Regions from separate parts of the Homo sapiens genome. Here region 2 is linked to region 1. Evidence: fine-mapped expression QTL. A gene starts in region 1. The other region holds a variant in brackets. All regions are shown on one strand. Distances are between the middles of the regions. Region 1 holds the start of ZNF267 (zinc finger protein 267). Region 2 overlaps ZNF267 (zinc finger protein 267).

Region 1 (15,571 bases):
AGAGTCCCTGGTAACTGTGTGATGAAAACCCAATAGTGATTCAGGCAGGAAAGACTCAAGTTGTCCTTGTGGAACCAGAATAGAAAATTGAGTTGTCATAGTAGGGCCACAGATCCAGGATCCAGATATGTTATTACCTATACCTGATCAGCTGACTCTTGGGTACAAGAAAGGACAAGATTACCCTACTCCAGTAACACAGCTCACAGGTAGGCATAGCTTTACTCATGGCTCTGGACAGTGGTGGCCCCACCCTCCCTCTGCTAAGGTGCTGCTTTACACTTACAGATTCTGCCACGAGATTCTGTTTATAAAAAGGAACCACTCACAGAACTGCTGTAGCTCACTGGACAAGGTCTTGAAAACTCTGAGGGCCTCACTCCAAAAGTAGGGCTTTACAAAGTCCATGTTGATCTCTCACAATGCAGAAAATGTCCCCTGGATTTTCTATATATCCTGAGTCCAAAGTCTGGCCCTGTCTTGTGGATCCCAGGTGGAGACCAGCCTTTATGTGCAGACCCCAGGTGGAATCAACCTGGCTCTGCAATTCTTGTGTATTGCTGTGAAGAAAACTAGAGGAGACAGCCCTTCAGGAAGGCTGCTCTCACACATCCTGGAGAACCTCAGGACCTGGGTTCAGAATTCACAGCTGCAGATTTAGGTGCTGGTGGCGCAGGGAAGTGGCATGCACCTTCTGCACATTCATGGGCATTTGGGCAAGAGGATGAAGGGAATGTTGAGATTCTCCGGCCTGCTCAATGTATGTGTGTGCCTGGTTGGTTTCCAGCCCCCATGGTCTCTGAATCAGTTTCAGGTCTGAAGATGCCAGGGGCATGGAAAGACAGAGCTGGAATGGCTAACTGATGCCCTGTAAACTTATTTTTATAGAAATCTAGTCAAACTATTCTAGAAGCGACTGAAGATCCCAAGTAAGCAGAAAGACCATTCTGCCTGCAGATTTTCGGGGCAATGGGCACTTTGCTGCACAAATGTGGGTTGTGAACAGAAATCAAAGAGGGAAAGGACCCACTGGAGTGAAGTCTTACAGGCATCGTACAGGTTTATATTCTGTGTAGTAATTCTGGGCAATGTTTGAAAAATATAATGAAGAAGAAAATCATAAAATCATCTCCAACCCCAGAAAAACTATCCATAGTGGTAGAAAAGAAAGAAAACTGTTTTATGACATAATTAGCCCAGAATGTAAAGGAATGATAGGCAACCTGCTAAGAGATTAGAAAAATACCCACTGGTGAAAAGTCACCATAATTAGTCCTCAATAGAAGACCTGACAGCACCATTTGTCAGAGAGAGTTCATCCTAAATTCACCTGGGAATTGGGAGGCCATCTGTGTTTTTTAATTGGCTATAGTCAAAGGAAAAATAAACTTCATGTCTTTATGACAGGCAGATTTGCAACTTGGAGCCAGGTGCCTGCCCTCCTAGAGAAACTGTAGGATATGGATCTATCTTCTTTGCTATTTACATTTTATATCAATGATTCCCAGTTCCTAGAGAAAGGCAGTACTGAGTCAAAAAGACTGACAAATGGCCTATTTAGCTGTTAAGAGTGATTTAGACAGGTTGTAAAACAGAAAAATAATTTACATATGAAAGTTTTCCAAAGTAAATGCTTTAAGAAAAAAAAAAAGAAAAATTTCTTTCCTTATTTTCAAGAAGGATTAAGTCTTGTATTTCTAATTTGTATTTGCTCTTACAACAGCCAGATCTAGCGCCATGGTCTTGAGCTCACAGACATCTGAGTTCCAATAGGTGCTGGATTCAGGCACCTGTGGGGTGACCTTGGGAACACCGTGTACACATAAAGAAGGGGCTTGTGGGGAAGTAAAAGGCAGAAGAGAGGAAGGTGCTATTGAGCCATGAGCAGGGGGCAGTACCAAGTTGGTGGAAGGACTGGTTTGTGCTACAGATACTGGCCCAGGTGGGACTATGCTCTGACATATCCCTGGGTCCACGCAGGCAGATGAGATTATGATTGGATGGTCCACAAGCCTAGGTTGATGGAGAAACTAGGCTGCTGCTACGGATTCAGTGTCTGGGATTACAACAAGCCAGGAGTCCTCAGGCACTTGTGTGGGTTTTTGGCAGGAAACCGGAAGCAAAGGTGCTGTGGGTGCAATTCCTGACAGTCAAGCCTTCTCCTGGGATGGACGGGGACATGTCAATGCCTAGTTGGTATGTTCAGGAGTGGGTGGGAATCATGTGGTGGCAGCTGGGTCGGGGAGGGGGTCTCTTCTCAGAACTCCTTTCCTCTCAGTGTTCAGTCCCTTCTCACCCTAGCAGGAGACCTGGAATCAAAGGACAATGCACAGTGGGGCAGCCTGTGTGCAGAACACAGCCTCTCTTCCCACAGACACTTGGGAGTCTCTCTCCAGCCCAGGCCTCTGTGAGGTCTGTCTTCTGACATCAAATGTGTAGAGTTTGCTGAACACCAACCAATCCTCCAACATCAACTGGGTGCCAAAAACTTAATTCTGACACCACGCAGAGTCAGCGCAGGCCCCACAAGTTCTCGGCTCAGTCCCACAACACTGCCCCCACTTCAGATGCCAGTCACAATGCCTGGGGCCCTATCTATACTTCCAAGCTACTGCCTGTAAATCGAGGGCACCCATAACCCTATCCTTAAGTTCAATCATTTCAAAGATCTACTCAAATAACTCAGCAAATCACTTTACTTATGTTTATCAGGTTATCATAAGGATATAGTTCAGAACAGCCAAATGAGATAAATACATACAGGGCAAAAAAAAAAGTAGTGGGAAAAAATAGGAACAGTAACCTGGTAAATAGCTGTGATTAAAGAAATCCCCCATCTTTTGTGTTTTCCAAGAACAGCCTACTGCAAAAAACAACCCTATTATGACTTCGATGATGCTCCCTGATTTAGTCATCACAAAGCCACAGACTCTCCAAATTCCCCTTCTGACTCAGCTGAACAGCTCTGTCTTCAGTGTTCAGAATAAACTACTTAACAAAACTTTGTATTTTTCTCCAGGTTGCTGGACTTTGACACACTCACAGCCTGGTCAACATTCAACCCCTCCCTAAGCCCCTCCTAAGAACAGGCTGACATCAGAGTGAAACATTCTCTGATCTCGAATCTGATTTTGGCACCTTAATCCTGCCCTTCCCCTCCTACCTTCTGAGCTTGTTTGCTCCTCCCTGTGAAAGAAAGTCTTTGTCTGCCTAACCTTTGAGATCCACAAAGATCTTACAGCTGTTGCTTTCCCCCTATTGCAATACTCCTTTAGAATTAAGGAACTTCTTACCTAAACCTGAATTTGTTTTATTTGACAAAATCAAATAAAATGTGGGGAAGGAACTGGAAACTTAATATTTTACTGCAAGCCTCAGTCTGGGGGAACACAGTGGTAGATTTGAGACTCTGCGTGCCACACATTAGGAAAACACAGGGGGAAAACCAGTTGTCGGGTGGGGGGAGTGTTAAAATGATTAATGAGTAGGCGACTATATGGAAGTGGTTGTAGTGCCCTGGGTTTCTGGGAAGAAAAACCAAAATCAGGACAATCACAATTTCTACCCTCAGAAAGAGCCTCCCAACCCTCCTTCCATCCCAACCCCAAATGCCTCTTTCTGTGGATTTTCAGCTTTCAGCTTTCCAGGGCTCTGTAGCTTCTCAGTATAAAGGGCTCCTTCCATGGATGGGGTGAGCAGGCTGGGAAACCTGCAGGGGAAACTCCCCTGGAAGAACTAACTGGGCTTCAGTGACCTCTTCTTGCAGGCTCAAGACCAGGTTAGTTTGCACTCTCTGAGCTCAGGCTTCTGCTTCCCAGTCAGGGTTATTCAATTAGTATTCAATGAGAATGCCCAGTGTTGGAAGAAAGCAAAACTACTCAAACAGTGTTTATAGAATAAAGGAAAGTGAAACGCCTTTATAATTTATACCTCAACAGAAAACACTAAAGTATCTATCCCTTTCAGACAATAAATAGGCCACTTACTTATTTCCATGATAACAGATCATTTAGTAAATAATCATATATAAACAATTCTAGCCAGTGCTACGTTCAGCATTAAAGCCATACATCCAAGGCCAGGCATGGTGGCTCATGCCTGTTATCCCAGCACTTTGGGAGGCCAAGGCGGGAGGATCACTTGAGCCCAGGAGTTTGAGACCACTCTGGGGGCAACACAGTGAGACCCACATCTTTACAAAAAGAAAAAACAAAATAGCCAGCCATGGCGCAGCACCCCTGTAAGTCCCATCTACTTGGAAGGCTGAGGTGGGAGGATCACTTGAGCCCAGGAGGTTGAGTGAGCTGTGATCACACCACTGCACTTCAGTCTGGGTGACAGAGGAGAGATCCTGTCTCCAAAAACAAAAAATAAAAAATAAACTCAACATCCAGACAAGAGGATAAAGAACAAAGATATCCACTGTCATAACTTCTTCACCCTACAAAAAAAAGAAACTGATGTTTTGATGAAACTATGTAATTCACCAATTTACCACACGTTGTTGTGAAAATGTATTCACTTTCTACAGCCAATAATGAAAGAAAGATTTTCTCTGTTTCTTTTCCCTGGCAGCATTTCCAAAAGGTGAGCCCTGAGATTCTGTTTTAAATTACTCCCAAAAAAAGAACAAACCTGAGAAACTTACTACACTCATTCTGCTGAAAAAAAAGATAGTAAGAATTTTTAACAATGAAGTATGACTTGATATTTTAATTTTCTGAAATCCACCTTTCATGGCCTTGGAAATGTTTTTTATCTTTCAAGCTCTACTGATGAAATTTACACTAACTGAAAAACTGAAGTAGAAATAAATGAACAATCTAAGGCAGCAAACTCAGGGAGTGGTAATGCTGTTGGAATACAGACATATCTGGCTCAAGTGTCAAGTCAGGTCACGGTATCATTTGAGACATTCTCCTACCCCAATACTGCTCATTAAAATGCTCAGGGACCATCCTCCCAGATCCTGCACTGTGCCCCATGGACACCGCAGCCGAGTTTGCACCACCTCACTGGGGTGGGGTTTTTGTTTTTTGGTCCTTTGGGAGTTTTTCTCCCTTCACAAATCTGAATGAATCTAGGGGGCAGGAATCATTTGTGACTGTTTCCCCTCAATACCAGCAAACGATTGGCTGACCAGCAATGTGTCTCCAAGGGATGAAAACTAGCTTTGAAGAAATAAAATCCTTATGTCCCAAGGGGTTATCTTTTTAGGTTAAGGGTGTCCCAGGAGATTTCTCTCAGCCCCAGGGCATCCAGCTGCTCCCCTGAGGGACTACATTTCCATACCTTGGGCGGTCCTCTAACAGGAGGTGACCTGGGGCTGACAGTCACTAAACACTCCAGGAGACATGGCCACTGTGGGCATCTTGAGTCATCCCAGACAGTTCTGAAATTCAGGAACAGGAAAAGACTGGATAGAGGGTGGCTATACAGGGCCCTGTAAAGTTTCCAAAGCAAAACCTCAAGTCAAAAGACATTCTTTCCGATAACGTGTCTGTGCCTGGGGAAGATGAATGAAAAAGAGGCACAGTTTTTTTTGCAGTGGAGTGTCAGGGATTTTTTATTCTCTGCTTTCCTCTCACGTGAAATGTATGCCAAAAAAACACAAATCTTTAAAAAAGTGTCATCCACTGCTCTGTGAAATCATGATTAATGAGTAAAATACTGTCTGAAATGTACAATAAATGACCAATAGTTAAGAATGTGAACTGGAGAGGGGAAGTTGGCCTTTGGAAATGTCGGGAAGGAACTGGAAATTTAATATTTTATTGCAAGCCCAGTTAGACTGGGGGAACACAGTGGTGGACTTGAGACTCTGCGTGCTACACGTTAGGAAAGCGCAGGGGGAAAACCAGTTCCCCTGGGCAGTGTTAAGATGATTAATGAGCAGGCGATTATACGGAAGTGGTTATAGTGCCCCAGGTTTCTAGGGAGAAAAACCAAAACCAAACTCAAATGCTTTTCTTGTAAATTACAACTTTAGGGGAAAACAAAATTCAGACTTAACGAACCACAAAGCTCCAATTCACCTCCACCTGCATAGTCTAAATAAGGCAACTACAAACTGTAACCCATCGGTTAATTTGGTCTGCTTCCTCATGCACCTTATAAAAACCTTTCCTTCAAGCCCCTCTGGGGATCTCCGAACCACAAACCAGGACTGCAGGCTTCCCATGTCACAAATCGCTATTTGCTCAAATTCTTCAACGTTTTAACAGTGACTCCCTTTAATTCTTAAGAGGAGTAGTGACTGAGGACCCCACAGGGCACGGTTTCTTCCCACACACCGAACCTGGGTCTCCCCTGAGACGCTCCCGTCCTCACCGCACAATCTGGGGGAGACGCGGGGCTGCGACGCGGAGCTGCCCAGAGAGGGCTCCGGCCAGGGACGAGGTCGCTCTGCGGGGTCGGGATGGGACAGGACACGCGGGGTCCCGGCTGCCGGCCTGGCCGCCATCTTGCAGCGGAGGGGACCGAGGGCCGAGCTGCACCAGTTGGGACTCGGGGCCCAGACCCCGAGGCTGACTGCGGGGAGGCCCGGGTGCCCCTACAGCGGGTTCCCGCCGCTTCCGACCACCGCCCTCCCTCCCTCTGGGGACCCCCGACCCCGCACACTCACCATTTCCCAGCTTCCGGGATGCCCTGGCGTCTTAGCTACGAATCTCCCAGTGCCTGCAAGTCGCAGAGCAACAGAGGTTCTGTTTATTCTCAGAACGCGAAGCCGCCTGGGCCTCCCAGAACGAAAGACTCGGAGCTGTGGCGAGGAGACCCGAGCTCTAACTGGAGCCGACGAAGGCCCCCGCCAAATCCCGGAAGCCGCCCCTGCTCTCCGGCTTCACTCCTGATTGGACGGTTTCCACTCCAGCGCCCCTGATTGGATAAAGCTCCATGCCCCGCCCCCTCATTATTAGTGCCTTTTTTTTTTTTTTTTTTGAAAGGGAGACTGGCTCATTGAGGTGGGGCCGCCTGCTGCGGGTATTACAGCTAATTAAGGGGTGAGCTGCGACTTGAAATACACTTGCTCTTTCCCTTACCTGGTTCTGCTTGTATAAGACATCTTATTAGCTAATTAAGTTTAAGAAGAAGTATATTTAGACACCTTTAAAGCAAGAAAGACCCTCATCCCGTCCCTTAGCACCTCTCTTACCGCACTGTACCCCACTGCTAACGCCACCGTGGGAGGGGGCCCCTCAGCTGGGAACAGAAGGCCGTACACTTCATTCACGTGTTTTCAATTAGGCCCTCGCATGATACATAGACTGAACCAGTGCAAAAGCATCTTATAGGGGCATGCAGGCTGGGGTCCCAGGAGGATGTTGCGGGCCGTGGTGGAACGTGGAAGAGGGGCTGGCCTATTCTTCTAATCTACAACTCTGCCCGCATCTCCTGGAGTCTGCATCACTGGTAACGGGGCCGCTGACTGTCCGTCTGTCTCTCCTTCTCAATCCCTTCAAGCTCAGGGAAGAAGGGTCCTTGGCAGCGACAGGGCTGGGAGCTCAGTTCCTCTGGGCCGTGCTGGCTCAGGCTCTGTGGCCACGGACTCCTCAGCCCTACCTCTGGTTTTTGCTTTTGTTTTGAGACAGGGTCTCACTCTATTGCCCAGGCTGGTGCAGTGGTGCAGTCATGGCTCACTGCAGCCTCCGGGGCTCAAGCAATCTTCCCACCTCAGCCTCCTGAGTAGCTGGGACTACAGGCACATGCCACCATGCCCGGCTGATTTTTGTATTTTTTGTAGAGATGAGGTTTCACCATGTTGCCCAGGCTGGTCTCCATCTCCTGAGCTCAAGCGATCCTCCCACCTTAGCCTCCCAAGTAACTGGGGCTACAGGTTAATAGTCAGTTCGCCAACTCCTGAGCTCAAGTATTCTGTCTGCTTTGACCTGCCAGAATGCCCTATTCCTGTTTTTCTGGAGTCTTGGAGCTAGTGGCGCTGCAGCACCTCGTAGTCTTCCGGCTGAGTAGATTCTCCTAGTCTTCTGGCTGAGTAGAAGGTGGGAGAGGAGGTGGGTGTCAAACTGGGCCAGGGCCCTCGGCCGCCATCTAGCTTGGTTAAACTCCCACTTGGGACAGATCAGGCTCTGTGCCTTATTCAGTGAGACGTGTGGAACAAATGCTTCCCTCCCCAAAGCAGAAACATCCCTGATTGCTGACAGTCAGGATTCCATGCACTTGTCTTGGCCTGGGGCATGGCTGCCTCTCACCCTCTCACCCAGTTCTAGTCGCTGCACTCTGTGGCCTCCCTGCCACCAGATTAGGTGTAGACAACGGGTGTGGGACAGGGCTGCTGACACCACTGGCTGACCAAACCCCTTTCCCACACTGAAGGGAGAAAAGACAGGAGGTTAGGGGCTCCCAAAGGCAGCACTGCTTGTGACAGCACCACGGGAGTCCTTAGGGCCTACTAAGGGGCTGGGCTGGAACTCAGGATCAACTCTGCCTGACTCCAAAGCCCATGCACCTCCATGGACCTCACAACTCAAGCAGCTTCCCTAGGCCTTTGAAATCCTGGAGATTGACTCTTTTGCGATAGAAGAAAGATTCCTTTTGATTCTCATCCTTCTAGTACTCTTCACAATTGGAAATAATCCCCACCAGAGAATGCTTCTGAAATGTCTTGGAAACATGTAGAATAATTTGGGAAAATGGCTGAAGGCTGAGTTTAAGAAATCAAGGCCTAACATTCTATTTTTCATTTCTTATAGGAGAGATTTGAAAGCACTTATAATGGACTCAATGTGTCTGCAAATTATTTTTGTCCCCTTTCAGTATTTGTAAGCTGTTGATGATTTTCAATACAGATTAACTCAAACTACTGTGACTGAAACAATCTTTTACTCTGAAAGCAAGAGATACAAAGGTATATCTGCTGAGAAGACATTTTTTTCTGCCACAATTTAGCCAAACAGCTGAGTACGTCTTAAAGTCAGCCTTTGATTTCTAACAAGTCAAGCTATTTGCCAAGACCACAGTCAGACCATATGACTTAACTACTTCATTGTCCCAGAATGTTGACCAGACAGATCGAAGCTCTGGGGGTGGAGTGGTGAGAGGACCCACGCTAGCAGGTGGGCAGCCATGGGTCCATATGTGAGAATCACTCATTAGGTGGGGTGTTTTGAGGTCCTGATATTTATGACACAATTAATGTGTATATTACTAAAAGTAAATTATAGAACATTACAAATAATAAATCTATATATAAACTAAACATGTCAGCAATTACAACTACTGTTATTTATCATTATTCTAAGTGTGATCATCATTATTACCACAATTAGAAATAGTAGTTGTGGATGCTGCTGCTGCTGCTGTTGCTGGAGGGATGGTGATAAAAACAGCGAGTAAGGCTCTGCTGCCTCCTTCACCTGCGGCATCGGGAGCTGCTGGCTCACTAGTTTGGTGCACACTCTGGACTTCTTTGGTGAAGCTGCAGCTGAAGAGCCTTCAGGCTCCGCTATGGCAGAATTTGAAGGTGGCAGGTAGGATGGTCCCAGGATGCAGTTGATGTTGAAGAGGTGCACACCACTTAGTGAATGAGTGAAAGCCTTTGGTGAAAGGCAGAGTTTCTACATGACACAGATCAGATTCCATTTTGACTGGGGCCAATCAGTGAAACAGACACATCTGCAGAACTGGAAATGGAGGACAAAGATTCAGTTGATGTGTTCCAGAAGCAGACAGGAGGGTCTACTGAGAACATACTCACTGCTTTACTCCAGAACTCTGTTTCTACAGACCAAGCAGACATTCTCACGTAGAAAATTGCAATATGTTTCCATCACATCTACTGGTCCAGCATCCCTTTCTCTCTTCTTCACTTTCCTGTTCCTCATTCCTTTATTGTACATAAATTATCGGGCGTAGCTGTACAAACATATTGATAATTTTTGTTTGCTTGTTTGTTTGTACTGAATGAACAACGATCATTGATTTCCAATGGCCATTGAGTCATTGGTGTTGAGTGATTTCCAATGAAGACAGCTGAGGGAAAACACTGTTTCTGTGAAAAAGACTCTCTTTCTCCACCAGGGACTGCTCACTCACTGTTTATCTCTATATTCCAGGACTTTAACAACAACAGTATAAAAAATATAGTGATCCTTTAGGTTTGTTGGGGGCAGGAAAAAAAAAGGGGGAATAACCTTTGCATACATTGTTCAATTAGAAAATTTTATTTTTAAAAATATATCATTGTAACGCTAAGAACAATTTTATAACTTTTTAAATGTAGCGGTTACACATAGAACAAATCTGTCCTCACACAGGACTAAGTGACAATTAAAAGAACAGAACGGATTCCAGATATGTTCTTCTTCAAATCCAGGATCTGGTTGTTTAAATACACATCTTGTGTAAAATGAAAAGAAAACATTTAATATATAAATAAAAACAGGAAGTAAAGTTTCTCTAGCCACCAAGTGTGTTGGTTGGACTGAAAATGAGGAAGAAGGGGTTTCCGTCTGCAATAAGTTTGAAGTCCCCCCAGGAGCCAGGGAACTGCCCACACCCTCTAAGGCTGCCCCCTCCTCTTCTGCCTGGAGCAGGGTGCCTGTGAGATTTCCATGCCCTGACCCAGGAGGTACATGGAGGGTGAGAGGTTGTCTGTCTCACACCCAGGCAGACATCCCTGGTCCAGGGCCCTCTGGAAGATATTCCCAGGGTCTCCGTAGGCTGCCAGGGTCACACCCTTCCAGAAAAGTTATATAGGTAAATTAACCCAAGAAGGGGTCAGTCCATGGGTGATACCAAGCCACATTGCACCCTGGATAGAGGGCAACACATCTCATGCAACTGCAAACTACAGTAAAGCTCTATCTGCTGACAAAACCTGAGAGGAAGGAAATGAGACATCCTCCTTATGCTTTGAAGGAAAAAACAACAGGCTAGAAGTGGTTGACTCACGTGTTCATGACTGCCATTGTCAGGGTAAGCTGAGAAGTGCATGAGCTCAGAAAAGGACTGTGCCACATGACAAGCTGGAGGGGGTGTGACAGGAGAGAGAGGAAGATGACAAATAGACTATGGGAAGCAAAATGGAAGTTCCGCTTCATGGAAACATAGTACATTCTTTCCTCACAATGAAGAAAAAAGGAAGAAGAAAGAAACTTGACTACAGGCTTTATTTTAAAAAGAAAAAATATATTCTATAACAAAGTCCTAATTCATCTGTGGGTGGTGTATCTGTGCTTTCATGCAATGATTGGATGAAACCTGCTACCAGCACATCAATCCAATTGGCAACAGCATTCCAAAAAAATAAGAAAAAAAATAACAGGGTGTGTACTCTCACTAAAGACACCTGAGAAACTCTATTTCCATGCATTACCATGAGAAGAAAAAAAAATTACCCAGATTGAATCGGGGACAGGACTAATCACTCCTGGGATGAAATACATGCAAATAGATTAAAATGGTGCTTGTGGTGCATGCGTATGTGCATGTGTGTGTACTGTGGTGTGTTTGCCACTGAGTACGAGAAACGTTGCCTGCTTGAACTAAAGGAAATGCTTAGTCCTGTGGAATCCAGAATCCTCCCACCTAGTAGGTGGCTCTTCAACCTCAGGTTTCAGTCTCAGCTCCTTTGAGAGCAGCCACACAGCAGACCAATTGCCGTGAGTGGGGGACTTCGTGGAGGATGCCAAAGGTTTTGTTGGGGGCTAGGCCCTAATTTGGGAGAATTCTGTGAAAGAATACATTCCCACCCACATCCGGGAGCTAAGTCCTCATTTGGGCTCCAGAGGCAAAGTGGTCACTTCATTTCTCACCCCTCTGCTTTCTTCCTCACTCTGAAGTTGGCCACCAGGTGGCGGCAGAAGATCAAAGATAATATCACTAGAACCAGAGCAGGCTGACGGTCTTTTCTTTTTTACTGACAAATAATAATTTTATGTATTTATGGGATACAATGTGATCATTTTGATATACGTATACATTATGGAACGATTCCATCAAGCTAATTAACGTATCCATCCACTCACCAATTTATCTTTTTTTGTAGTGAGAACATTAAAAATTTAATTTTGCAATTTTGAAATGTACAATACATTATTAACTGTGCTCACCGTGCAGTGCAATAGGTCGCTTATTCCTCCAGTCTAACTAAAGCTTCGTATCCTTCCATAAATTACTTCTTTTTCCCTATCCCACCCTTCCCCCTGACACAGCCTCTGGTAACTACCTTTCTAGTCTCTATTCTTTGTTTCTGTGAGATCAATATTTTTAATTCCACAGCTAGGTGAGATCATACAGTATATGTCTTCCTGTTCCTGGTTTATTTAACTTAGCATAATACCCTCTAGTTCAATCCAAGTTATCACAAATGACATAATTTCCTTCTTTATAAAGGCTAAATAGTACTCCATTGTGTATATACACATCTTTATTCATTCATCTGTTGAAGGACACTTAAATTTCTTCTATATCTTGACTATTGTCAATAACGCCAAAATAAACACAGGAGGGCAGATCCCTCTTTAATAGCCTAATTTGAATTCTTTTGGATATATACCCAAAAGTGGAATTGCTGGATCATAGGATAGTTTTTTTTCTTCAATTTTACTTTAACTTCCAGGGTGCGTGTGGGGCATGTGCAGGTTTGTTACATAGGTAAACATGTGCCATGGTAGTTTGCTGCACAGATAAACACATCACATAGGTATTAAGCCCAGCATGCATTAGCTATTCTCCCTGATGCTCTCCCTCCCCCATCCCCCAACAGGCCCCAGTGTGTGTTGTTCCCCACCATGTGTCCATATGTTTTCATCGTTCAGCTCCCACTTAGATGCAAGAATATGCAGTATTTGGTTTTCTGTTCCTGTGTTAGTTTGCTGAAAATAATGGCTTCCAACTCCTTCCATGTCCCTGCAAAGGACATGATCTCATTCCTTTTTATGGCTTCATAGTATTCCATGGTGTATATGCACCACATTTTCTTTACATGGGATACTTTTATTTCTAGGTTTTTGAAGAACTTCCATACCATTTTTAGAATGGCTGTACTACTTTACATTCCCACCAATAGGGTACAAGGGTTTCCTTTTCTCCACATTCTTGCCAACACTTGCCTTCATTGGTTTTTTTGATAAGAGACATTCTAACAGGCCTGGGATTACAGACATTACTCTCTTCTATTCTCATTTAAGTGGTCAGAATGGTTTATTTAAAGTCTTTAAATGACCTCGAATTCTCCCATTGAAAACGGTTTCTTATGGTATTAGCATAATTTCAAACTACTCATCAGAATGATAACGTGCCATGTGAGATGACATGGGGTGGGGAGAGCAACTGAGAGAGCTGCAGCCAAAACACAGACAAAGGAGGAGAAGGGCTGGGATGCCTGTGGAGCTTGTGGTGAAACTTAACAGAGAGGAACAGGGGAGAATCAGAAAATGAAGCCAGCAGAATTCTTGCACCACAGATCAGTGCTGCAGCCTGGGAGCAGGTATCCTCTCTTCACATGTAGAAGCATCACCTGGATGTTGCAGTCTTTTGCCTGCAGATACAATTTCACTCTAATAGGACCATTTCTTAGCCCCACCGCAACCTCTGAGGAGGCAGAGAGGCTGAAAGTTAAGTTAATCACCAATAACCAATGATTTAATCAATCATGCTTATTTAGTGAAGCTTGCAGGAAAGCCCAAAATGAAGGGGTTCCTAGAGCTTCTGGATAGCTGGATACATGGCAGTTCCTGGAAGGTAGGGTGCCCACACCAAGAGAGGGCCCTGAAGCTCCAGGTAGACGTTGTCAGAATCCAGTTGAATTATACAACACCCAGCCAGTGTCTGCTGCAGAATTGGCTGTTGATATAGAGAAATCTCCATAAATTTTGGTGACCAGAGGTCACAGAAGTATTCTGTATTGATTGTTGAGTGAGGAAAAGGAAATACACTTCGGCTGATTTATTTTTTCTTTTTTGAGACGGAGTCTTGCTCTGTCTCCTAGGCTGGAGTGCAGTGGCGTGATCTCGGCCCACTGCAAGCTCCGTCTCCCGGGTTCATGCCATTCTCCTGCTTCAGCCTCCCGAGTAGCTGGGACTACAGGCACCCGTCACCACGCCTGGCTAAGTTTTTGTATTTTTAGTAGATACGAGGTTTCACTGTGTTAGCCAGGATGGGCTGGATCTCCTGACCTCATGATCCGCCTGCCTCGGCCTCCCAAGGTGCTGGGATTACAGGCATGAGCTACTGCGCCTGGCCTCGATTTATTTTTTCTATATCTCTCTGAGTTCGAAAAGTGAAAAATAAGGTGGGAGTGTGTATATATTAATGACAAAACTTGTTCAAGAGAAAGATGTGTCAAACTGGCATCTACAAAGAAGTAAAATGGTTTTGATAAACTCATCCCAAGAAATGCGGAGAAACAGTTCTAAGAAACACGTTCTATTGGAGCAGGCCATCGCGTTTGTGAAAATCTCCCTGTGTAATATTCACATGCAGCCTGGGTTGACATCCATAGCCTTAGAAGAACAGAATTCTCTTTGTCATGAGCTGCTCTAAGGGCAGGGGTGACCTTTGTCTTTCCTCATCTTAATGTACCACAGGGAGGCGAGGACTTCAGTAAGTGGGATTCACAGCAAGGTGCAGATTAGAACTCCCTACAGAGGGTTTCACCATCCTGTGAGGTCCCATCCCAGAGATTCTGATGGGGTGACCCAGCTTAGGGCCCAGGCATCAGCAGGCCTGAAGCCCCCAGGGGGCTCTGATGCACCACCAGGGCTGGGAAGCTGACCCCCAGAGGGTCCAATGCCCAGGGAACTTTTTCCCCTGAGATAATGAGGAGAGCTTCATGGACGACTTGGGGCCTGGGGCAGAGGACTAGTGTGTGACTGAGGAGCTCTTCTTAAGATAGACTCTGGAGGGGTGCATGGGTTCTATACTAATGTGTTTTTCAAATGTGTTTCAGGCTATTTCTCTTCTTGATGATATGTCAGGAAATGCTTGTGTTTAGCTTTCGAGCTTAGGGAAATTCATCAAACCTAATGAAAATTGTTTCCATAATTTTCATGTAAATAAAAATGATTTCTAATTTCATGATAGAATGCTCCAAGAAGTCTGTTTTCATCTGGCTGATAGAAGTAAAAAGACATTCTATTTTGTCTTTTTTTTTTTTTTTTTTTGGTGTATATGGAAGTAAAACTACTACTCAGATTTCTTTGGTCATACATGAGGAAAAGACAGGAAAGAAAAGATCTGGGCTGTGATGGGAAGTGGTTTCTACCTGTTTTTCTGAGGGTGTGGCTTCACAAGAGTTAAATCACACACACCACTACAACAATTAGTACCAGTGATCCTTTTTTAAGGTAATAAAATGGAAAATACCCCATGGACACAAACATGTTCAAAAGGTTTTTTTTCCCCTCAGGTCTATTTCCACAGTCATAAAAAGAGACAAAATGATTATATGATTGGACTGCTAACTCCATTGGACATTCTGTAACTCACTCAGCCACTCATCCCCCATAGAGGTGAGAGGAACAGGCAGTAGGTTTTATTAGTCATGTTACAGTCATAGTAAACAGATGTTTTAATGACAGCTTATTTGAGCTCCATTGATCCTTTGAATCCA
Region 2 (15,571 bases), 46 kb before region 1:
TTTGAGGAAAATTTGACATAGTTAATGGTGCAGATAAAGTACAAAAGCGATCTAATGGAGATATTTCTCTTGCTCAGGAAGGCTGGCTTTTTTGTTTTATTTAAACCTTCAAATGATTGGATGAGGCCTAACCCGCAGTATGTAGGACAATCTGCTTACTCAAAGATTACAAATTTAAATGGTAATGTCATCAAAAAGAAAGAGCCCTCCATATTGATATAAGATTAACCCACAGAACCCTAATTTTAATGCCTGAAAATCAGGGGAGAGGGTGTCAGTCATTTGCTGATGTTGTTATAATGCAATAGAAGGCAGCACACTCAGTTTCTTTATTTATATTATCATGTTTCTCTTGTTTTGTGGTACTACAACGCTGGTGGGCTAACACTGGTGAGTTTTTTTGGGCCATGTATTCCATTATGTTCAAGATGACATAGGATATAAGGAATACATTTTATTACTGATTTGTTGGAAGACTTTCCAGGCAATCTTAAATTAGTTCAGGATGTCAGAAGAATCCTTAGTCAACAAAAAAGTCTGTGAGTAGAAACTTTGAGTTTGGAAAGGATGATGTAGACCCTATAGTGTGACAAGTCCTCCACTAGATAACTTAAAGGTGTATATCCACTGCTTGAGCACTGAAGGCCAGGTAGTGAGCCAAGGCCATGGGGACCAGCTGAGGAGCAGGTGTTTCTGAGAATGCAAACATCCTAGAGAGTATCTGAGAACATACCAAGGGAGAGTCCCATGATACACACATGGTAGGCAAAAAGCTGTAAAAGTGCTTAAAAGCAGCTTAGAGATGGGAGGTGATGTGGACTCTAACGCTGTCCTGCTGCCTCCTAGGAGGGTCCCACATGTAAGTCTTAACACACTTATCTACTTGCCAAGCTGGATTGGTCTGGATCATTATTTAGTCTCGGCTCCCTTCCAGATTGTGGGACAGGGAAATATTACAGTCTAAAATTTTTCTTATAACAGACCCATTTCCCCCTGCATTTCTCCACTAACTACAGCTATAAACCTTGAAAATCACACAGGAAGCCTTGAAAGGAGAGCTCTGAAAGGTGGTATGAAGAAGACAGTCTGCTTAAGGACTCCAGAACTGAAGGAATTGTTTTGTGGCAATGCATGTTATTCCCCTAACTCAACTGAGAAAAACAGAGACCAACACTTAGTGTTTTTCAATCCCCCAGATAACAAGAAAACACAGCCCAATAAACTTATTTCTTCCCTGATAGAGGACTTTATCCAACAACAGAAGACCATCTTGGCATGACCTCGGAGTAGAATCATTCAGAAGTCTGCTAACAATAAGAAGCCAGAGAATTGCCAGAAGAATATTGCCTTAAAGGCTCAATGGTCTCCACATCTTAAGGTTCACAAACCCATACAAGTAAAACAATATTTGGACATAAAATGCTAATATTCATGAAATTATTTAATAACTTTATATCTGAATTATTTTATTTTTATCCTCTTATATGATAGTTCATATACCCAAAAGAGATAAAAATAATAGAAAAGATTAAAATTTTAATATTTTCTTCTCTTACCACATGGGATATCCAGTTCATCACCTCTAATGTATGCTCTTCACTCTAAATAACTCTGATGTACTAATAAAAAAGTGTTTCTCCTACATCAGCATGAGCCCTCCCTCTCCAAGGAGACTCTGGAGGGCATTGGTGTTGAGCCTGGACTAGAGAGGACTATGTTTCTCACAGATTGGAGTTAACAAATAAAGTAAAAGATAGTCAGTTAAATAAATTTCAGATAATGAATTACATATAGAGTATCCAAATACTTATACTACAGAGTTAGTAGTTGTCTTTCTGCTTTTTAGATGTAACTGTGTGTCTGGTAGTTTTACTTGCTGAATCCATCAACGCCAACATGAAATAATCATAGGATCTGAAAACATGATGCAGACCTAGGAGAAAAGCAAAAGAAGAAAAATCCATAGAGGTCATATAGATTGGAAGGAGCATGGAGGAGAATTGGGTGCCATCTGATACCATACAAATATATGTATTTGAATGCACATCTCAGATTGCTCTGAACAGTGACAGTTTGTCCTCAGGCTGAGGGTGAAGCCCCTGGGTACTCTCAGAGACGGATAATGCAGAACAAGTTCATCTTCCTTATTCTCACTTTCATCTTAGCTTGTTTATGATATTGCAAGCCCAAAAGCTTCCATGCAATCATGGAAATGTCAGGAAAAACATCATCAAGTGAACCAGGAACTAAAAGCTAATCATAAAGTCTATGTGCTTAGATCAAATGTCTGAAAAAAAAAATGACTTCAAAGAAAGAAGCCATTTCCAAAACCAATGTTATTTTGTATTACAGAATGTTACCTTAGACAAAAATAAAGTTTTATAAGACTTATTTCCTCAGTTTTATAATAATAGCTATTGTTTAGTGTTGTATTATTATAACCAAGCCCCTTGAGATTTCAGCACCCCAGCATTTTTAGCGACTGAAATAATGAAATTTCTAATTAAACCTTTGCTTGCTTGCACAAAAGCCAGCATCCCTTGTTTCTACAATAAAATTATAAATTGTTGATATACTGTTGTCAAGCAGGAAGAGATAATTTTCTTTTTCAAGCAGGAGGGTCACAGAAACATTTTGCAGAAGAAATACATGCCTTGAAGGACATTGTTACCAGCTGTTGACACCGAGAAGTCTTGTTGGCCAAGATGTTATCTGAGACTGAAGAAATACACACTTTTCCCCTCAATTCCCTTAATCTCCCCCTTCCTTATCTTCTGGCTGAATAAACATCCCCTGATGCTGCTTTGTTTTTTCAGATGGATTTGAGAAATTTTCTCTCCTACATTCTTACTTTGGCCCCATTGAATAAACCTTCCTCTATCTCCAGGCACCGGTGACACTGTTTGGCCTCAGCTGTACATCACATTCATGAGCCAGGATTTGGAATTCTACATCATTTTATTAACAATATTATTTTAATAGTTACTTGCATTCTTCCTGACATATTTAAGTATAGCTATATATCACAAAATATCCTGTGTTTTATTAGTATAACAATCGAAAGCATCATATTCCTCATCGATTTTACCGTACTTTATAAATAGCATTGAAAAACATATGACTGCTCATCAATAGCACAAAGCGATTATGAGAACTGCAGATTACCTGGTTAGGTGAAGAAAAGGTTTTTTTCATTCAGTGGCAATAGTGGCAACCCAAGAAACACAGCTAGCAATATCAGAAAAGGGAATTGCCCTTCCTGGCTAATAACAGTTTTATTAAATATTTGTGTAAAATGCACAAATGGCAAGATAATAATTATGATATTTTAGATGCCGTCAAAAAACAGACATGCATCTACTATTCATTAAACAGAGTAAGATGCATCGCAAGTCATGGACACTCCCAATCTCAAGACATTTTATTCTCAGCTCATGTGAGAAAAACATGAGTCAGAGAAGGCAGCTGCAGAGGTAGGAGACAGAAAAACACTGGACACAAATCCTGAGCTACAAATTATTGGAAACTTTAAAAATCCTGTCTGCCAGTGCATGTTTCTGACCACGAAACCCAAAAAGATGAGGAAAATATAACACTTTTTCTTCCTAAAAGATTGAAAGGTCTTTTAACCTCATATTTTGGTGGATCACAGTAACAAGATTATAGTAACATGAACTACATCAAATATTACATCAGGAATGAAATGGAGGGTATGTCCTCTGTGCCCAGGAACGCTGATTAAAATTAGTCAAGACCCACGCTCTCAGACACTCCAATGTTCTCTCCTTGACTCTGTGGCCAAACCGTTTATGAGAAAGCCAAAAGAGGAATATGTTTTTGAGATTTCTTTCACAAGATTGTGACTATAGTTACGTCAACCTAAAGTCATCAGAAAGATTAGAATCTAAAAGACTTTATTTAAATACAAACATTTAGGATAGACTGCCTAGAAAAGCACAGATTTTAAAGAATGGAAGTCAGTATTCCAAAGTGTAGAATTTTAAGATCATTTAAACAAAATTCAAGAAAGTTTAACAGAATTTTAACATCTTTCTATGTAAGGTTTAATGTATAGTTATAATATTTTGATTAGATAATCAAATATTATCAATTTTTTGGAAAAGATATATTTAACATTCTAAACAAGGCAGGTTCTGGTGTCCCTGGAAGTTGTAGTTTTGATGTTAATGCTTGTTTACACTTATAGATTCTGCATTGACCACCAGAAGCTCCTCACACAATGGCAGCAGGTTGGTGAACAAGATATAAAAGATTCTACAGGCCCCAACCTGAGTGATCCTCCTGCTTTATAGGGTCTGTATTGATCTCTCATGATACAAGAAAGGTCTGCCCTGGATTTTCTGTAATCCTCAGACTGAAGGCTGGCCCTGTTTTATGAATCTCACGGGGAGGCAAATTCCCCTTGTGTGCAAATTCTATGAGGGATCGCATCTGTTCTGTATTCTTGGGTTTTACAGCAAGAAGAGACAAGAGGAAAAGAGATTCCTTCCAGGAAGGCTGCTATAGAGCATTCTGAAGAGCCCCAGATACTGCATTCAAAATTTAGTGGTGCAGATTTAGGTTCCCAGAGAGACAGGGAAGTGGAAGAGGCCAACTCAATGCGCAGGTACATGTCTGTGCTACCAGGCCCCATGTTCTCTGAATCAATTTCTGTTATAAAGTCCCCAGGTACATTGAAAGACAGGGCTGGAACGGATGATTGCCACTTTATGAGGTTATTTTATTACAAATCTTTTCTAACTATGCCCCAGATGAAACTGCAGAGCCCAAAATAGGCAGCAAGATCATACTGCATTCACATTTTGAGGGCAGGCAAGATCTTCACTGAACAATTGTGGCTTGGGGGAAGAAAGCCTGAAAGAAAATTTGATGGGTATCTGCCAAAGTCCCTTCTAGTATGAAACCTGATCGGTACCTTTTATGTTTATATTTGATCTTGTAATTCTGAACAGTGCTTGGGAAATATAATTAAAACAACATTGCCTCCCAACCTAGAATGCCTCCCCACAAAGGTAGAAGAGAGATAAAATTGTTTTATAACTCAAACCAGAATGTGATGTGCATCAGAAGCAAAACATGTAGTGTTTAAACATCACAGTCTGGTTTGAGTTATAAAACATATGTGTTGTCAAGATTAATATTAGTAGCCCTCAAGTAGGAAAATTTGACAGCACCATTTGGCACAGTTTATCCTAAATTCACCTGGTAACTAGAAAGATGATCTAGGTTTGATAACTGGCTTTATTAAAAGGAAAAATAGGCCGGGCGCGGTGGCTGACGCCTGTAATCCCAGCACTTTGGGAGGCTGAGACGGGCAGATCACGAGGTCAGGAGATTGAGACCATCCTGGCTAACACGGTGAAACCCCGTCTCTACTAAAAATACAAAAAATTAGCTGGGCGTGGTGGCAGGTGCCTGTAGTCCCAGCCACTCGGGAGGCTGAGGCAGGAGAATGGCGTGAACCCCGGAGGCGGTGCTTGCAGTGAGCCGAGACTGTGCCACTGCTCTCCAGTCTGGGCGACAGGGCGAGACTCCGTCTCAAAAAAAAAACCGGGGGGGAAAATAAACTTCCAACTTTTGTGACAGAAAATTGTTTTGCAACTTGGAATTAAGTGCCTGATAAAATTAGGCTTCTATCTTACTGCAAAATTGTGAGATCGGGTACTATCTTTTTTCGTATTTATATTTCAAATACATTGTTCCCAGGTCCTGGAGAAAAGTATTCGTGTGTGTGTGTGTGTGTGTGTGTGTGTGTGTGTGTGTGTGTGTGTTTTAACAAAGAGAAGCAAAACAGCCAGCTAAATGTCGGAAAGTTGCACATTTTGGAGACTGATTTAGTTGGCTAGATGGGCTTTTTAACGTAGTGTGTTTTTTAGATTACTGGCTTCAGGGTGGAGCCACTTAATAAATAAAGCAAAGGAAGCATGCAGTTTTTAGGGCTTAATATTTAAATATGTGCAAAGCAGGAGCAGCTGGAAGGCATAACACTTAGATTCTCCCAAATCAAGAATCCCATTTTTACATTGAATTCTGAGCCCCCAAAAGAAATGCCATGCCAGAGGACTGGGCAGTTCAATGATTCCATAGTGCACCTCAGTAGAGGGACATTCATTTGAGGTTGGTAGGCAATCCTATGCCAGCACACACTATGATTACTGCATCCCACATGGGTGTCTTACCCCTCGGTGGGGTGGCTTGGGGGCTGTTTCTGTAGCCTCTACATTCTAAACCATACTTTTTCTATCCAAACACCCAAAGAAATAAGCAACTCCCTAGAGTAATAAACATTTACTGTAAGCGACTGCTGTCAGCCCTCTAACACCATAGCTCTTGCCAGTGACTCACCAGCAATTACATCCACCTAGTCAAGTTCTCTCATAGTACAATGTAATCTCTGGTATCCCCCAAAGCCAAGGAGATCAAGTAATGCAATACAAGAAAGAGCAGAGTGTTAGACCTGAGAGGGATCTCTCTGCTTACAACTCTGAGGGCCTCATGAGAAAAAGCAGTTTCCTCCCAAGAGGAGGAGACTGTGACAACTTTTCTGTTTTCTGTGATTCTAGGCTAGAATTCTGTTAGAATTCTTTTTTTGGGGGGCGTTCCCCTCATGTGGCATTTGGAGTGGCAAGAGGAAGGACAGACAGAAGTAAATGGAGAAACAGAATTCATTTGACTTTTACAGAGAGAGGAGATCTTAAAACCATGCATATGTGTATGTACGTAGAGTAAATATCAGTTTTTATTAAGTCAACTTTGGACTATAGAGCTCTTTAAAAATCCTTTTCCTAACTGTAATTCCTACTCAAGTCATTATACTTTTGCTGCTAGCTGGACCTCTGTAGCCAAATGAGCAGCCATTACACCTTAGTCGCTGTTCAACACCCTTCCTCACTGCAGTGTGATAGACCACTCTCAGATAACAATCATGCTAATTCTGCCAGAAGTATCCTAACTAGAGGCCCTATCTTGAATAAAGGCCAGGTAAAGCCAAACCTATGGCCGGGCACAGTGGCTCGCACCTGTAATCCCAACACTTTGGGAGGCTGAAGTGGGCAGATCAGCTGAGGTCAGAGATTCAAAAACAGCCTGGCCAACATGGTGAAACCCTGTCTCTACTAAAAATATATAAATTAGCCGGGTGTGGTGGCGGGCACCTGTAATCCCGGCTACTCGGGAGGCTGAGGCAGGAGAATGGCTTACGCCCAAGAGGCGGTGATTGCAGTGAGCCGAGATTGCACCACTGCAGTCCAGCCTGGGCAACTCAGCGAGACTCTGTCTCAAGAAAAAAAAAAAAAAAATGCCAAACCTGCTGGATTACTTTCCGAGGGGGCTGGGCACTCTTGGTCACAAGATGTTTATGGTTGAAACACTGAGTTAATGATGTTAATCAACTAAATAAGAACTCAAAACTTAAGAAAATGTCCCAGTACTTTAAGAAAAAGCATTATTAGTTTAAGTATGTTTTGCTTTAAAAATAGTACTCATAAATTCTTGCTGAAATCAATAGTAACATAGAAAAGTAACAATACTAATAGCCTGTCATAAGCTGATTAGAATCCTCTGTAATAAAGTATACCATTCTTAATAACCTATATAACCATTTGAAATGGGTGCATTTCTCCTCTTGCTTTCTGAGGAAGGCCTACTCTAACAGAGGAGCTTTCAATAAACTATCTCTTCTCATTGCAAGGCATTCCTCTTCCTGCTTTCTGAGGATGCCCTACTCTGTAACTGAGTAGTCTCTAATAAACTTTACTACACTCTGCAACTCACCAAGAATTCTTTCCTGTGTGAGATTCAAGAACCCACTCTTGGGGTCTGGGACAAGATCATCACATCTCTTCTAGTGACTCTGCCAGGACTTGAATGAGGTGAAGTCCCAACTCAAAGGAATGAGGTCCCAACCCAAAGGAAACAGACTCTGCAGCACCAATGGGCTGACGCAAACTCTAGTTGTAAATTTTTGACAAATAAACCCTTACGACCTTCACCTAGTTTAGAAACAGAACATTTTCATCATCTTCAGAAAATTCACTCGTGTTTTGTCCCAGGCACCTATCTTTTCTTCCTCAGCCAGAGGCTATCAATGTGTTTATTTCACCATAGGTTTATTTTGCCTGAAATAATACAATACATAAATATACAAAACACAATTTTATGTCTACCTTTTTTCACTTACGAGGTCTATGAGATTCATATAGGGTGTGAGCTTTAGGCTGAGTTGTATTCTGTTATATGAATGCTATGCAATTAATTCAAACCACTGCTTTAACCCAACATCTTTTGGTGAACTACTTACAAACTGGCTCTCAAATGAATGTAAAACATTTGCTGCTAAGTTGTGGCCTTTCAATCTTACCTGCCTTATCTAATCATTATTAAGATAGTCACTATGAGAAAACTATTCTCCAAATTATTGAAAGTTTAAGTCCTCCAGCAAAAGGAATATTAGGGAAGACATTTCACTGTTAACCCATAGTATATTATTTCCATCTGTTAACCACAATCTTAGATAAGATGGAATAGTTTAACACTGGTGTCAGTACAACATTTCATTCATTGTACATCAGTGTTAAAACATGAAAAACCAACTCATTTTATTAAAAGAAATTAAGTTCACCCATAGTCTACAGCATTTTAAAATCCACTATATTCTTCCTGGTCAAAATACAGTTACAAGTACTCAAGAAGCATTCTTTTTTTCCAATATACTAATCTTGCAGTTCTGTTTTCTACGTTTTTTTAAAGTGAGGCTAATTATTTAGTGAATGTTGATAGGAATTATCTTCACATTTCCCTGATACAGGTGAAGATGTTATTCTCATCACATCAAATACTCAACTTTTTCACTATGTATTCTATCACATCAAATAATACTAAAGACTCCTACTTTATTCTGTTTTAAAGATATGTTAGTACTTCAACTCAGTGGTCCTAACCTTTTTGGCACCAGGGATTGGTTTCATGGAAGACAATTTTTCTACAAACTGGCAAGGAGAGAGATGGTTTTGGGATGAAAATGTTCTGCCTCAGGTCATCAGGCATTAGTTGGAGTCTCCTAAGGAGCACACAACCTAGATCCCTCACATGCATAGTTCACAATAGGGTTTATGAAAATCTAATGCCACCACTCATCTGAGAGGAGGCAGAGCTCAGGTGGTAATGCTTGCTCACCCACCACTCATGTCCTACTGGTGCAGCTCAGTTTCTAACAGGCCACAGACCAGTAACTGGTCTACAGCCTGGGAATGGGGACCTCTGCTTTAAATGAAGTCTTTTTAAAAAAAAAAAAAAAAAAAAACTTATGGAGGAATTGAAGTAATTTCAAAAATTCAGAATATCCCTCTTACTTTAATATAGAAAAGAGCTCTAAACACGTATATGTTTAC[A/G]TGCATTACTACTTTATTCAAACACAAAGAGCATATTTTTAAAAATTTTCATGTGTTTTACATTTGGCATTAAACTTCCATGAAAAATGCTGATATTAATGATATTAACGTAGAATGACCTCACATTGTTCTGATGCAGAAAAAAAAACAGAACACATATTTTCACATGAACACCACGGATTAAGGAAAAGCAGCAACAGATTTGAAAGCTGAATTATATAAATAATATTTGCTTTCCAAAAACCTCAAATACTGTAAATACAAATGAAGTATCTATGAAATATACCTGTCAAAACATCAATGTTCTTGCTACTTTAAAACATATAAGCAAATAAATTATCTAATTATTTTGCCTTTAGATTATTCTGTACAAAAAATACTCTTATTTAGTATAAAGGCTGAAAGTGTCTGTGCTTTAGTCCTTTCTCACATAAATTCTCTGACACATTTAGACTTCATTTTTTATTAAATACTTCCTCACATTTATTGCATCTGCAAACTTCCTTTTTCTATGAACCCCTAGGTGACTCATAAGTTTGATATTTTGAATAAAACTTTTCACATTTTTACATCTATAGTGTTTCTCTAGTATGGATTATCTTGAGTAAGGGTTGAGCACAGTTTAAAATAATTTGCCACATTTTTAATATTTGTATGGATTTTTTCAGTTTATATTCTCTGCTATTGTGTAAGGCTTGAAAATAGTTAAAGGTTATGCCACATTCTTAACATTTGTAGGGTTTCACTCCCATATAAATTATCTGATGCACAATAAGACATGGGTAACAAGTAAAAAATCTGCTCCATGTTTTACATTTTTAAAGTTTTTCTCTAGTATGACTTCTCTGATGTGCAATGAGGTATGACCTAGAGTTAAAGGCTTTGCCACATTCTTCACATTTGTAGGGTCTCTCTCCACTATGACTTCTCCGATGTGTAGTGAGGTATGACCTATAGCTGAAGGCTTTACCACATTCATCACATTTGTAGGGTCTCTCTCCAGTATGTCTTCTCCGATGTGTAGTGAGGTATGACCTAGAGTTGAAGGCTTTGCCACATTCTTCACATTTGTAGGGTCTCTCTCCAGTATGACTTCTCTGATGTGTAGTGAGGTATGACCTATAGTTGAAGGCTTTGCCACATTCTTCACATTTGTAGGGTCTCTGGCCAGTATGAATTCTCCGATGCTGAATAACATCTGAACTATAACTAAAGGCTTTGCCACATTCTTTACATGTATAGGGTTTCTCTCCAGTATGAGTTCGCCGATGCACAGTAAGACCTGAGGAGTCACTAAAAGATTTGCTACATGCTTTACATTTGTATGGTTTTTCTCCAGTATGAATTCGATGATGTCGAATAAGGTGTGAACTATAAGGAAAGGCTTTGCCACATTCTTTACATTTATAGGGTTTCTCTCCAGTATGAATTCTCTCATGCACAATAAGATTTGAGAAACAAGTAAAAGGTTTAGCACATACTTTGCATTTGTAAAGATTTTCTCCAGTATGAATTTTCCGATGTTGAGTAAGGCAAGAACTACGGCTAAAGACTTTGCCACATTCTTTACATTTATAAGGCTTCTCTCCAGTATGAACTCTCTGATGCATAATAAGATTTGAAGAACGAGCATAAGATTTGCTACATACTTTACATTTGTAAAGTTTTTCTCCTGTATGAGTTGTCTGATGTTGAGTAAGGCATGAACTACGGTTAAAAGCTTTTCCACATTCTTTACATTTATAAGGTTTCTCTCCAGTATGAATTCGCTTATGTTTAGTAAGGTATGAACTACAGCGAAAGGCTTTGCCACATTCTTTACATTTGTATGGTTTCTCTCCAGTGTGAATTCTCTGATGCACAATAAGATTGGAGGAACGAGTAAAAGATTTGCTACATGCTTTACATTTGTAAAGGTTTTCTCCAGTATCAATTTGCTGCTGTTTAGTAAGGTATAAACTACAGTTAAGGTTAAAGACCTTGCCACATTCTTTCCATTTACAGGGTTTCTCTTCGGTAGGAATGATCTGATGTTGAGTAAGGTGCAAACTATGGTTTAAGCTATCCCCACATTTTTCACATTTGTATGGTTTCTCTTCATTATGGATTATCTGCTTTCTAAGATTTGATGACTGACTAAGATCTTTATCATATTTGTTATAGCTATATGAGTTTTCTCTGATATGGATGGTCTGATGTTGAATATGTTTTAATGACTGGGTACAAACTTCTACACATTTATTACATTTGTAAGACTGTTCTTGTTTCTCTTGCCCATGCATACTCTGAAGAAAGACTTCCTCAAATTCTTTACATTTGTATTGTTTTTCTAGAAAATAATTTTCCTGATGATTTTTAGGGCTTGAGCTTTGGTTCAAGGTTTTTTCAGAATTATTGCAATGATAATTTTTCTCTCCAATAAAAACATTTCGGTAACTATTTAGAGTAGAGACCTGCCTAAATAACACTGAAGTTTTATCATATATGTGATGTTTTCCCCAAATATCTATTTCCTCTTGTTGATTAAGCAATGATGAATGAGTAAAGACCTTCCTATATTGATCAAAGTTATAGCTTTTGGCACAAGAAGAAAGTATTTGCTGGTGAAACAAACTTTCAACAGAGGATTCATCAAATTGATCATATTTAAAAGTCTTTTCATCATAACATCCATTGTGCCCTTCACACTCCTCCCTTTTCCACCTTTTTCTTAAATGTAAATTCTCAAGATCACAGCTCCCATGTCTCCTCGATATCACTTTTTGGAATGAAGCTTCTGTGCAGTGCTCTGTCAACAGGTCCTTGTTATAATGCGAAAACACATCTGAAAGATATAAAAATTTTAAGAATTCCAATTACTATATTCAGGTACATATATTTTACAAATCTAATATACAAAATTATGCTAAGTTGAGAATACAACAACAGTTGAGTGAAAAACCTGAGGCCGTGTTTTCTCAATTGATATACAAACTTTACTACAATAAAGTGGCACGTGAACTACTAAGACACCAACAGTGAAGGAAAGGGAGTGCTTGTGCCACCTTGCCCTTGCCCCTCAGCAGCATCTGCATGGCGGGGAGAAATCTGTTCATTTGGGAGACGGAGAGCACAGTGACTAGGGGACTACAATGAACCCAGTGCTGCCCTATCACAGCAGAGACCTGGCAGGATTCATCACCTTCTGACTTAGGAGCTGCTGGTCTCTGAATAACCTACAGTGGTACCCCAATAACACATCATGAACATTGGACTCCGAGATGTGCTGGCTTCAGGTGTGACCCAGAACATTTCCCACTGTGGTGGGTATAGTGAAAGACACCTTCTGTTTGAGCAAAGCAGAGGAAAAAGTAAATGGGATTCTGTCTTGCACCTGAGGTACCAGCTTGGCCACAGTGGGGTAGAGCACCAAGCAGACTCTTAGGGTCCCTGAGTCAGCATTTCTGGACCTGCCCTGCACCAAAGAGTAAGTCCCAGTTGTGGAAGCAGTCATCATAAGCTGACTGAAGAGTGCTTGGGTGTTGAGTGAACATCAGTGATAGCCCAGTGGAAACCCCTGTGGGCTGGTGGTGGTGGCAGACACATTGTGAGGCTCCTCTGCCTGCAGAAAGGGGAGGGAGGAGTGGTAAGGATGTTGTCTTGTAATTTGAATGCCAGCTTAGCTGCAGTAGAATAGAACACGAGATAAATAAGGCTTCTGACTTCAATACCTGGCTCCCACACAATATCTCTGAACCTACCTGGGGCCAAAGGGAACTCACTGCCCTGAGGAGACACAAACCTGGCTGGTTACCACCTGCTGATTGTAGAGGCCTAAGGTCTTGAGTAAACTTAGGTGGTAGCCAGGCAGTAATTACACTGGGCCTTGGGTGACACCCAGTGCTGTGCTCACTTCAAGTCTAAATTAGCACAGTCCCAGTGGTGGGGGCAACAGGGAAGCTTATGTCATCCCACCCCAGCTCCAGGTAGCTCAGCATAGAGAAAGAAATTCCATTCGTCTGGAAGAAACTAAGGGAAGAGAACAAGAGTCTCTGCTTGGTAATCCAGATAATTCATCGATTTTAACCAAGACCAACCACATGGTACCTCTATGAGTCTGCAAGAACAACGTTATTGAGTTTGAGATCCAAGTACCTTCAAATTCTGGAAAGCCTTCCCAACAAGGGTGGACACAAAGCCCAGACTGCGAAGGCTACAATAAATGCCTAACTCTTCAATGCCAAGACACAGATGAACATCTACACATTAAGACCATCCAGTAAAATATGGCCTCACCTAACAAACTGAATAAGGCATAAGAGGCCAATCCTGGAGAAACAAAATAAGTAACTTTTCAGACAGATGATTCAACATAGTTGTGTTGAGGAAACAAATTCAAGATAAAATAGAGAAGGAATTCAGATTCTATCAGATAAATCAAACAAAGAGGTTGAAATAATTAAAAGGAATCAAGCAGAAATTGAAGTTAAAAAAGCAATTGGCATACTGAAGAATGCATCAGTCTCTTAATAGCAAAACTGATCAGGCAAAAGAAAAAATTATTGAGCTTGAACATAGGCAATTTGAAAATATGTAGAGAAGACAAAAAAGAATGAAGTATGCCTACAAGATTTAGAAAACACCCTGAAAAGGGCAAATCTAAGAGTTGTTAGCCTTAAAGAGAGAAAGAGACAGGGGTAGAAAGTTTCAAGAATACGATCAGAGAACTTCCCAAATCTATAAAGATATCAATATCCAAGTACAACCAGGTTACAGAACACAAAGCAGATTGAACCCAAAGACGACTACCTCAAGACATTTAATAATCAAACTCCCAAAAATTAAGAATAAAGGATCCTAAAAGCAGCAAGAAAAAAGAAACAGCATACAATGAAACTCCAGTACGTCTGGCAGCAGATTTTCAGTGGAAATCTTACAGGCCAGGAGAGAATAGCATGACATATTTAAAGTGCTGAAGTAGCAAAGCTTTTACACTAGAATAGTCTATCCCGTGAAAATATTCCATAGCCATGAAGGAGAAAAAAATGACCTTCCCAGACAAACACTGAGAGATTTCATTAAAACCAGACCTGTCCTACAAGTAATACTAAGGGGCATTCTCTTCCATCTGTAAGAAAAGAATGTTAATGAACAATAAGAAGTCATCTGAAGGTACAGAACTCATTGGTAATAGCACAGAGAAAAACTGAGTATTATAATATGGTAACTGTGGTGTGTAAAATACTCAAGTAGAAATACTCAATGATGACTCAATACAACTACAACAATGTTTCAAGACAAAGACAGTACAATAAGACATAAAGAGAACCAACAAAAAGTTGAAAAATGGGGAAGCAAAGTTAAAGGTAGAGTTTTTACTAGTTTTCTTATTGCTTATTTGTTCACTTAGGCAATCAGTGTGAAGTTGTCAGCAGTTAAAACAATAGGTTATAAGATAGTATTTGTAAGTTTCATGGTAACCTCAAATAAAAAAACATACAACAGACACAGAAACCAAAAAGCAAGAAATTAAATCATACCACCAAGAAAAATCATGTTCACTAAAATGAAGACAGAAAGGAAGGACAAAAGAAAGAGAAGATGCAAAAACAAATAACAAAATGGCAGGAGTGAACACATACTTATCAATAATAATGCTGAATGGAAATGCACTAAACACTCCAATTAGATGACATAGAATGGGTGAAAAAAAGAAAAAGGAAGACCCAATTATCTGCTGCCCACAAGAAATACACTTCATCTATAAAGATACACATAGACTGAAAAATAAAAGAATGGAAAAATGTTCCATGCCAATGAAAACAAAAAAAAAGAACCAAAGTAGCTATACTTACATCAGATAAAATATATTTCAAGATAAAAACTGTGAAGACAGAACAAATGTCATTTTATGATAAAGGGATCAATTCAGTCAGAGAATATAACAATTTTAAATATCCATGCACCCTACACTAAAGCACTGAGACATAGAGTATTAGAGCTAAAGAGAGAGGCCCCAATACAATAATAATTGAGACTTCAACACACCACTTTCAGCATTGTACAGATCTTACAGATAGAAAATCATGAAAGAAACATCAGACTTAATCTGTGCTATAAACCAAATATACCTAATAAATATTTGCAGAACATTTTATCTAATGGCTACAGAACACACATTC

The links. PIP is the estimated chance that this variant, and not a neighbour inherited with it, causes the effect.
Region 2: its variant is fine-mapped to the expression of ZNF267 in blood mononuclear cells (TOPMed, PIP above 0.99).

The regions. Positions count from the first base shown.
Region 1 is chr16:31,865,024-31,880,594 of GRCh38, reverse strand. ZNF267 (zinc finger protein 267) reads right to left here and starts at 6,788. Exons shown (of 4, transcript NM_003414.6): 1 at 6,626-6,788. The coding sequence starts at 6,628. RefSeq lists enhancers at 51-551, 2,712-3,001, 2,004-3,203, 6,673-6,967 and silencers at 6,507-6,586, 6,737-6,786.
Region 2 is chr16:31,911,139-31,926,709 of GRCh38, reverse strand. ZNF267 (zinc finger protein 267) reads right to left here. Exons shown (of 4, transcript NM_003414.6): 4 at 9,353-12,234. The coding sequence ends at 10,229. Among named protein-coding and RNA genes, the nearest start is that of ZNF267, 45 kb to the right of the region's middle. The variant A/G (reference allele first, on the strand shown) is at 9,411.